Regions from separate parts of the Homo sapiens genome. Here all the other regions are reported to be linked to region 2. Evidence: microRNA targets listed by miRTarBase, many of them from high-throughput screens and not tested one by one. Region 2 holds a microRNA gene; each other region holds the end of a gene's coding sequence. Distances are from middle to middle.
What was found. The annotated mature microRNA hsa-miR-1247-3p reads CCCCGGGAACGUCGAGACUGGAGC and lies in region 2 at 1,382-1,405, shown strand. An mRNA with a match to its seed (bases 2 to 7 or 8) in the 3' UTR can be bound and repressed. Matches are read on the target gene's strand: a 7mer-m8 pairs with bases 2 to 8, a 7mer-A1 pairs with bases 2 to 7 and ends in A, and an 8mer does both.

Region 1 (3,000 bases), 56 Mb from region 2:
CTATCAGGTCATAAGATGAACTAATGATAAGGTTTAAGGTAAGTAACCCCCAAAGGAAACTTAAAAGTGGAAAAGAAAAAAGACCTTAAGGACTTAAATAATAAGATGGATAATGAATGGTTAATGGCTACCAATGAGGATATAGGAGGAGGCTATTGCAAGCCTAAATATGGATAGAGCTCTCCATACAGCAAGCATAAATAAATGAAATCCTCTAGGTTATGTCTGTAACACCATGTTAATTTATGTACTTTTTTTTGTCTGACGGGTGCACACACAGCTGAGTCTGAGCAGGTGGTGGTATCTCTGTGTGAGGTTGTTGAGGGACTGCATGATTCTGGCATGCAGCTGGGGCAAAGCACCACCAGATGTCCCTACCCACAGGCCCTGCTGACAATGTGGCAGGAGCAAGATACATGAAGATGTAGCACAGTGGAACCACAAAGAGGCTCCTTTCCTCCTGTCACAGCTTAGCATTGTGCTCACTACTAAAGGAGAAATACTCAAAAAGTCCAGTTATAATAAACTGATAACTGCACACTAGGCAATAACTTAGTGTTTCCTCTCTGTGGTTTTGACAGAATTATTGAGCAGCATACATAAGTCAGCTGCTTTCATACAAATTGAGAGTTGATACTATCTCAAAGGAGCTAAACAATTAGAGTAACTTTTTTGTCCCCTTTTATCAACACCATAGAGTGAAAGAGAATGATACCTAGTTTGTGAGTTCTGCTTCTAGATTTGCCAGTCTAAACTTGAATAAGTCACTTGTTTCTGGGCATCACTTTTATCATTTGGTAAGAAAGGAAAGAGAAGTGATTTGAATTACATGAGCTCTGAAGTCCCCGCCAGATTTAAGGTGAGGAGAGCTCTGCAGTGAGGCTGGTTCAACTACCCAACAATGTAATAGGGGTAAAAATGAGGCCGAGAATAAAGGACTCACATAATTCAAGGCTGCTTTAGTACTAGACTGACTAGAAGAAAGATGTCATATATATTGCAGATACAAGAAAAGCCTTCTTTTTTGGTTTGTGTTTGTTTTTGTTTGTTTTTGAGATAGAGTCTGGCTCTATCGCCCAGGCTGGAGTGCAGTGGCACGATCTCAGCTCACTGGAAGCTCCGCCTCCCGGGTTCACGCCATGCTCCTGCCTCAGCCTCCTGAGTAGCTGGGACTACAGGTGTCTGCCACCATGCCCGGCTAATTTTTTTATATTTTTAGTAGAGACGGGATGGGGTTTCACCGTGTTAGCCAGGATGTTCTTGATCTCCTGACTTCGTGATCCGCCCCCCTCGGCCTCCCCAAGTGCTGGGATTACAGGCGTGAGCCACCGCGCCCGGCCCCAAGCAGAGCCTTCTTAATGCCATCACAGACAACAGAATGGATCAAAACGGTAAATATAATAGGGTCAACATAATGGGCCTGCATTCAGTAATTTATATTAAAAAGAAACTTTCTAAGTCCAAACCAATATACCATTTTGAATATATTTCAGCAACAAAAAAGAGTAATGTAGCTGGGAGTTTGTATTAGTCCATTCTCACGCTGCTATGAAGAAATAACCCGACTGGGTAATTTATAAGGAAAAGATGTTTAATTGACTCACAGTCCTGCATGGCTGGGGAGGCCTCGGGAACTTACAATCATGGTGGAGGGGAAGCAAACGTTTCCTTTTCCACATGGCAGTAGGCAAGAGAACTGCAGAGTGAACAGAGGAAAAGCTTATAAAACCATCAGATCCTCTGAGAACTATCACTAGAACAGCATGGGGGAACCGCCCCCATGAGCTAATCACGTTCCAGGAGGTCCCTCCCCAATATATTGGGATTATAATTCAGATTACAAGTCAAGATGAGATTTTGGTTGGGGACACAGCCAAACCATATCAGAGTTCATATTAATAGATTTGACAGTACTTAACTGGGACACACCTTTGGTCAGATAAACATTCAGTTAAGTTTTCTACTTTCCTAGTTACTGGGTCATTTATCTCACAACCCACCCATCACCCACACCTTACCAAGTACATGTATTTAGAATCAGTACACTTAAAAGTATACTATCTACACATAGGGAAAATCGACAAGTTGGCTGTAGTCATAGACATGTCAACTTTACTATTTATCACAACAGTACAACTTTAATTTTGGGAAACATTCCAAAGTATATCTCTAGCTTAGCTTTTACTTTCTTAAACTATCCTTAGTAACACTTTTAATAAACCTTGTTTTATTTAATAAGAAAAATTAGTTTTATAATCTAGTCAAAATGATCACTGAACATCAGATTTTTCTTTTTTAATAATTTCTATAATCTATAAATAAAAATGTATACAATATAAAATATTTAAATAAAATATTCTCTTATTTACAAATAAACATAAAACAGCAATGATTATTGAAGTGCATTTAATATTGTGAGAGGTCTTTGAAAACCCCATCTTGAGCAGCTTGATTATATATCAGATTTCAGTCTATCTTGGTTAAGATCATTTGGTAACATTTGTATGTCAAATACATAGTGAATATATCTATAGATCTCCTCAGCCTTCTGATGAGTTACTTGTGCATACATGGAGATTTCTTGAAGTGAGCTGAAAAATAAATGAGACAAAATCATTACACTAGGACTTTTGGCTTTTATAAAATTTAATATTACCTAAAGAACACCAAACACAGTAGCCTTTAAGGAAATCATCTCAAGCATTATCCGCCCAGCTGATATGTCTTGAACATTAGTTTGGATAAAAGAGCTACTTGTTTCCTTTCCTTAAAATTATCTAGAATAACAATTTCAACATCTTCAATGAACTGAATGTTTTTGTGTTGCCCAAAATTCATATGTTGAAGCCGTAATCCCAATGTGATGGTATTTGGAAGTGGCAACTTTGAGAATTAGTTGATAAAGGTGGATATCCTTGTGCACTTTTAAGAAGAGGTCAAAGAGCTAGCTAGCTCTATTTCTGCCATGTGAGGATACAATGAGAAGGCAGTAGTCTGTGA
Region 2 (3,185 bases):
CCCCCGGCGGCGGCGGCCCAGGAAATGCTTGCGGATACACAAGAAATCGAGAAGCCAGAGCATGAAGGCCGTGCCGAGGAAGCGCGGGAAGAGCACGAGGCACGAGGCGGTCTGGGCGCAGAGCCTCAAGGAGTGAAGCAGCAGGGAGCGGAGCATGGTGGCTGCAGGCCCCGAAGCCCCCTGGGACCCCTCGCCCTCTCCGACCACCAACCGCGACGTGGCCTGGCGAGGCATCTGGGCTTCAGCAGTGCAGGGAGTTCAATTTATAGCGGAGGCTTCAATTGGCGGGAGACTCCACCTCCGGCCCGGCCCGCCCCCTTGCAACTTGAGCCCGGAGGGATCACCCAGCAGCGCGGCCAATGCCCTAGAAATCTTGGGCTGAGGGCGGGCGCAGGCGGGCGGAGGGCGGAGCGGCCGGGCCTGGGGCCGGTGGGGGCGGGCCCGGGCCCCGCAGCCAGCTCTCGGGGGCGGGGGACTCCGGCAGCCGCTGCCGCTGGGGACCGGGAGCCCGACCAGGGACCTGGGCGTCCGCTGGGGAGGTCCTCCAGCTGGCGCGAGCGCTGCGCGCCGCCCTGGTCCCCGCCGCCTGGCTCCGGCCCGCGCCCCCCTCGCCGCGCACCTGAGCCGAGCTCCCCGGCGGCCGCCGAGCCGCGCCGGAGCTCCGGTTCGCTTCCCGCGCGCCGCCGCCAACGCCGCCCACGCCGCTGCCGCTCGTGCGGGGCCGCTGCCCAGGTGCCGCGGGAGGCCGGGTCCGCGGCCGCCGCTTCGGTGGCCCCGGCTCCCGCCCCACCGAGGACGCGGGCCAGCGAGGAGGCAACTTTGCGTTCCCGCCGCCTTCCTGGCTCGCCCGCGGGCGCCGCTCGCCTGCCGGAGCCCGCCCGCCCGCCTCCCGCGCGCGCTCACACTCGCGCCTCGCACACGGCCGCCCCCCGCACCGCCCCGCCACGCACACCGCGCTCCGCGCCCCCCGCCGCTGCCCGAGGCTGCCGCGCGCCGCCCCAGCCCGCGCCGCCCTGGCCGCGCCCGCCCCGTCCCATCTCGTTCCAGCGGGGCGCCGCGGTTCCTGGGTCAGCGGCCGCCGGGGCCGGGCTGAGAGGTGCGGAGGGCAGAGCCCGCGGGCGGGTTACCGCCGGGCGCCGGAGACCGGAGAGCTGGGGAAAGCGGCGCCGGCCCTGCGCCCCCAGCCGACCCGGGCGCGGGGCGCCACGGGCGTGGGGCGCGGGGCAGCGGGCGCGGGGCGGCGCCGGCCCCGGGCGGCTCTCCCACTAGGGGTAGCTGTTGCCTGAACGCCGGAGCGCTCCCCTCTCGCCGCTTGCCTCGCCCAGCGCAGCCCCGGCCGCTGGGCGCACCCGTCCCGTTCGTCCCCGGACGTTGCTCTCTACCCCGGGAACGTCGAGACTGGAGCGCCCGAACTGAGCCACCTTCGCGGACCCCGAGAGCGGCGGCGCGACTCACCGCGGAGGCGCCCGGACGCGTCAAGTGCGTACTTTCAACCGTAAATGGGTGCTGAGCGTTTAGGGGTGCGGGGCAACTCCCTAACTCGTGGGGCCCTGGCCGGCCCTGCCGCGGCGTCCGAGACCTTCTGATCCCTCGCTGCGCGCGGCGCGGGGTTGGCGACTTGGGCTCAGGGGCGGCGGGGCGGGGAGGTGCCTTGACCTAGGGACCCAGAGGCCGGGAGCAAGTCTCCTTTCGCCTTGGACTGCAGTGTCCCCCAGGGCAAGGCCTGAACCAGGTCGCGAGGGTCTGTCTCCCGTCTGGGGAGCTGAACTGCCCGAGACACTGTCGCAGTCGCGGGGACTTGTCTGGAGCGGCGGGGTCTGAGCCCAAGTCGGAAGCCGCCGCCGCCGCCAGCGTCCCGTGCGCCTGCCGCCCCGGGACCAGCCGCGAAACTTCTTCTCGGGACGGAGACAGCGCTCGCCGCCCGGGCCGAGGTAGGAGCTGGCTGGGCTCGGTAGAGCGCGGGCGAATCGCTTTCGGCAGCGAAGGAACGTGTCGGGAGAAGCCAACTGCAGGACCAGGGCCCCAGCGGGCGCGCAGAGACGCCTGCCTTGGGCGGAGGTCCCCCCCTCCGGTTTTCGTGGCTCTGGTAGGGCCCTCTGTCCCGTGAGCTCCTCACTGGACCTGAGGCTACAGGCTTCAGCAGGTCAAGCGCCCGAGTGTGCCTGGAGGATTGGCGGCGGGGTGGCATGAGAAGGTGGCCCCTCTTCTCCATCTCCCAGTCAGGCGATTTCTCTGCTGTCTGGGGCAGGGGCGCACACCCCAGGAACTTACTACGTAGAGGGAAGCCAGCCTGGTCTCTCCCCCTTGCGTCAGTGCTCCTAAGCTGCCCCTCACCACTCTGGGTAGGGGTCTTTCAGGTGGGCTAGGGAATTCTCCTTGGAAGTCCCCTTGTTTGCTCCCCTCCATCAGGGCACCTCTGAGTTAGCCAATCATCCTCTTTTCTGGCCTCTTTTTTGCGGGGAGGAGAGTAGAGAGAGAAGCCTCCTACTCGGCAGGTCTCTGAGAGGAGGTTTGGGGGGGCTTCTGAGGTTGCTCCTCCTGGGCAGAGTCAAGGGGTGTTGAGGGTTCCAACTTTTACTGGACAATCTCTCAAGCTCTGATTCCCTGATTTCTGGGAGGTGTCAGTGTAGGGCTTGTGTCCTGCCCCACCCACACAGCATTTGGTGCAGGCACATGGGATGGTTCCCCAAGCCCTTTTCCCACAGTTAGTTTCAGAAAATGCATAAGCCACCTAAGGCTGGGAGAGCCTTTCTGTGCTGGCTGAGATCTGGTGGCATGTGCATGCATATGTGTGCAAGTGTGTGTGTGTGTGTGCAAGTGTGTGTGCGCATGTGCATGTGTGTGGAAAGTATGGTCTGGGTGGCTGTAAGACTGGCCCCTCTTGTCCCCTCTGCAGGCCCAGCCCAATAGGAAGCACCTGATCCACACTCTTTCTAGCCCCAGGGATGCTCAGGAAAGCAGCCTTTCTTTAGGGCTGTCATCTGTTCTGGGGATCTGTTGCTGTTTCTTGGGCCCACAGAATACACTCCACACCTCGGGACTCCATAATATTGGACAAGGCTGGAAGGCCCATTTGGCTCCTGCAGCCTCTTATGCAGGTGAGGACAGACCCAAGGTCCAGGCAATGCTGGCCTTTGGAACACAGAACCTGGCTCACTGACTCCCACTCCAGTTGTCTTTTCCCT
Region 3 (3,000 bases), not on the chromosome of region 2:
GGGAAGAAAACTGGCAAAGGAGAGCCAGGCTTTTGCTGAAAGAATTTGAAGCTGTTCTCACAGAAAGACAGAATATCTACTGCAGTCTGTTTCTTCCTCGCAGCAAGCGGCTGGAGATAGAGAAGAGCTTACTGGTGCGAGCGTCCGTCGACCCCGTCGCCGCTGACCTAGAGATGGCAGCCGGTCTCACCGACATATTTCAGCATGATACATACTGTGGTGATGTCTGGAACACCAACAAACGCCAGAATGGCAGACTCATGTGGCTCTATCTCAAATACTGGGAACTCGTTGTCGAACTGAAGAAGTTTAAGAGAGTAGAGGAAGCCATACTAGAAAAGTAAGACAAGAGTGAAATCAAACTGCTTTTAGTGACTCGAGGCCAGGCAGTCATGCGCCTTCTGGGTCTCCGGCGTCTTCCGTTCCCGTGCTGCCCGTGTCATGGCCACACCGTCACCCTTCAGCAGCGACCTCCACTCCCGCCACCGTCTGAGCAGAAGTGCACCGAAGCCTCAGAGACAGAGGGTCTCCTCCCGATGCTCTGCCGCTGTTGGGGATATGGTTTCTTGAAGCATTTTTAGGCTGCCAGTATTGTATTAAGCAGAACAGTATAACCTCGTATTTTAGCTCCAGGGTAAAAATGGTTTTTTAAAAAGTCAAATACAATACTGGTCCTTACCACAAGTAATTTTCTGTCTGTTTCATCACTCCCTAAATACTTTCTCCTCAAATTATTTTTCTCTGTCACCAGATTACATTAAGAATTTGTCAGATAATGTGTAGAACTGCATAACAGGTAATAGGAAGTAGTAATATTATATTATCAAGGGTTTATATTTTAAAGATCTCTCTCACTCCATAAAGGGGAAATACCAAGTGTTTCTTGTATCCAGTTGTTACTTAATGTGTGTTTGTTGTATGCAGTTGTTACCTAATGTGTGTTTGTTGTATGCAGTTGTTACCTAATGTGTGTGTGTTGTATGCAGTTGTTACCTAATGTGTGTGTGTTGTATCCAGTTGTTACCTAATGTGTGTTTGGAATTTGGCTTGTGTCTGTATTCAGCAAGCAGATACTTATTAGCAATGATATATACTCAAAATACTTGCCATTTATGAGTAATAATGCCACTTTTTGTGTAATTCTTCACTCTTTACAAAATATTTTTATATGTATTATCTCATTGTTTACCACAGCCAACAAGGTAGACAGGCACTTATCACCCCATGTCACACATAGCTACTGGGAATTGAGCCTGTATACCTGTTCACTCATGGAATCCTCAGTCGAATCCTGTGAAGTGAGTATTACTATTACGCTTTGCGGAGGTGCCCCAAGGCCAGCCCCCAGGTGCGTGACCTGCTGGGAGATCTCACAGGACTCAGCACAGGGTTGGACTCAGCACAGAGCAGAATCAGCAAAGGGAGAGGGTGTGTGGGTGGCGCTCAGAGGAGCCACGTGTGGACACCCCAGGATCCACTCCCTGGAGTCATACAGGACACACCTAACTATTAAGAATAAGCTCACTGGAGACTCAGCACCTGGGGCTTTTGCTAAGGGCTGGTCATGTGGTACCCCCTGCCTGGCCTGTGTGGGAATTCCCCACTTGTCCAGAAGGAGGGTGGGTTTGGTGTGGTCTGTGCCGTGAGCACAAGTACTGTGGTCACAGAGCCACGCGTAGGAGTTAATGGTGCTGGGAAGTCTCCCAGAATCCGAGTTCCCAGATGTCAGTCAAGGGCCAGCCTTGCACACAGGCCCTGGTAGGACACAGCCTTGGGCCTGCTGTGTGAATTCGTCACCACGCACCTCACTTTACGGAGATGTGGAAGAGCTAACCTGCCTGAGGTCACGCAGGTAGTAGTGTTGGAGCCAGTCTGAGCCCGGGCACCTTTTCTCCAGAACCGCGAGTAACCTGTGTGCAGTGATTTGATAGTGTGTGGCCAGGCAGGAGCGGGAGCAGGTTGTCCATCTGCTTTCAAGGGCCATGTTCTCCCCTCCTGCCCGTCTGTACGGGAGTAGGAGCAACTGTTAAAAATCCTAAGCTCATAGAGCCCACGTGGCAGTATGAGAGCCACTATTCATGGAGTGCATGTTCCACCCTGAGCTGTACACGCTTTACACGCATGCGTTGTTTGAAATCCGTGGAACCCCTTGAGCGCGGCGGAGGCGGGCTCAGAGCCAACATGCGCTGCCTGCAACAGACACGGGCCCCCTGCCATGCTCTGCTCTCGGCACCCACGCCCTGCTAAGGGTGCTCAGATGCTTCACCCAGGCAGGAGTGCAGTGGTGTGATGGCTAAGGGTGCTCAGATGCTTCTCTTCTTCAGTGGCTGCTAGCGTGCCTCTCTGCTCTACCACCATCGCTTTATCTGAGAAAAAGTCACTTTTATTTTCATTTTTTATTTTTTTTGAGAGGGAATCTCTGTCACCCAGGCAGGAGTGCAGTGGTGTGATCTCAGCTCACTACAGCCTCCGCCTCCTGGGTTCAAGCGATTCTCCTGCCTCAGCCTCCTGGGTAGCTGGGATTACAGGCGTGCGCTACCACACCCAGCTAATTTTTGTTTTGTTAGTAGAGACGGGGTTTCACCATGTTGGCCAGGCTGGTCTCGAACTGCTGACCTCAGGTGATCCACCGCCCCCACCTCGGCCTCCCACAGCACTGGGATTACAGGTGTGGGCCACGGCACCCGGCCCCTAAAAAGTCATTTTTTCGGTAAATCTGGACAAAACTCTTCCTGTTGTTGTTTGTACTTCCTGATGCATCAAGACCCTTGCCTAAAGAGCGGTGCAGGCTCCATTCCTGCGGCAATCCGGTCTGCTGGGTGTCCCTGTGTGAACCACTCCACGTTTGTCTTTAAATGAAGAAAACACAGTCAGCTGCTTTGTAGGTGAATGATTTTCGAGGCAAATTGTTAATCCTCATCCTGTTTCTAATGTCCAGTGTGCTGTCAGCCTAGCTTCCTTCTATAGTGAGATAGATATGTTCAGAGCCTTCAAGCTGGT

Region 1: miRTarBase lists FANCM as a target of hsa-miR-1247-3p. The part of its 3' UTR that is shown has no 7-base or 8-base seed match.
Region 3: miRTarBase lists CCDC127 as a target of hsa-miR-1247-3p. The part of its 3' UTR that is shown has no 7-base or 8-base seed match.

Annotation. Positions count from the first base shown.
Region 1 is chr14:45,199,461-45,202,460 of GRCh38, reverse strand. FANCM (FA complementation group M) reads right to left here. Exons shown (of 23, transcript NM_020937.4): 23 at 1,571-2,591. The coding sequence ends at 2,453. Among named protein-coding and RNA genes, the nearest start is that of MIS18BP1, 52 kb to the left of the region's middle.
Region 2 is chr14:101,558,546-101,561,730 of GRCh38, reverse strand. MIR1247 (microRNA 1247) reads left to right here and starts at 1,309; the gene lies at 1,309-1,444. DIO3 (iodothyronine deiodinase 3) reads right to left here and starts at 236. Exons shown (of 1, transcript NM_001362.4): 1 at 1-236. The coding sequence starts at 234. DIO3OS (DIO3 opposite strand upstream RNA) reads left to right here and starts at 1,309. Exons shown (of 2, transcript NR_152588.1): 1 at 1,309-1,479.
Region 3 is chr5:202,641-205,640 of GRCh38, reverse strand. It overlaps CCDC127 (coiled-coil domain containing 127), which reads left to right. Exons shown (of 3, transcript NM_145265.3): 3 at 1-3,000. The coding sequence ends at 344. Among named protein-coding and RNA genes, the nearest start is that of LRRC14B, 13 kb to the right of the region's middle.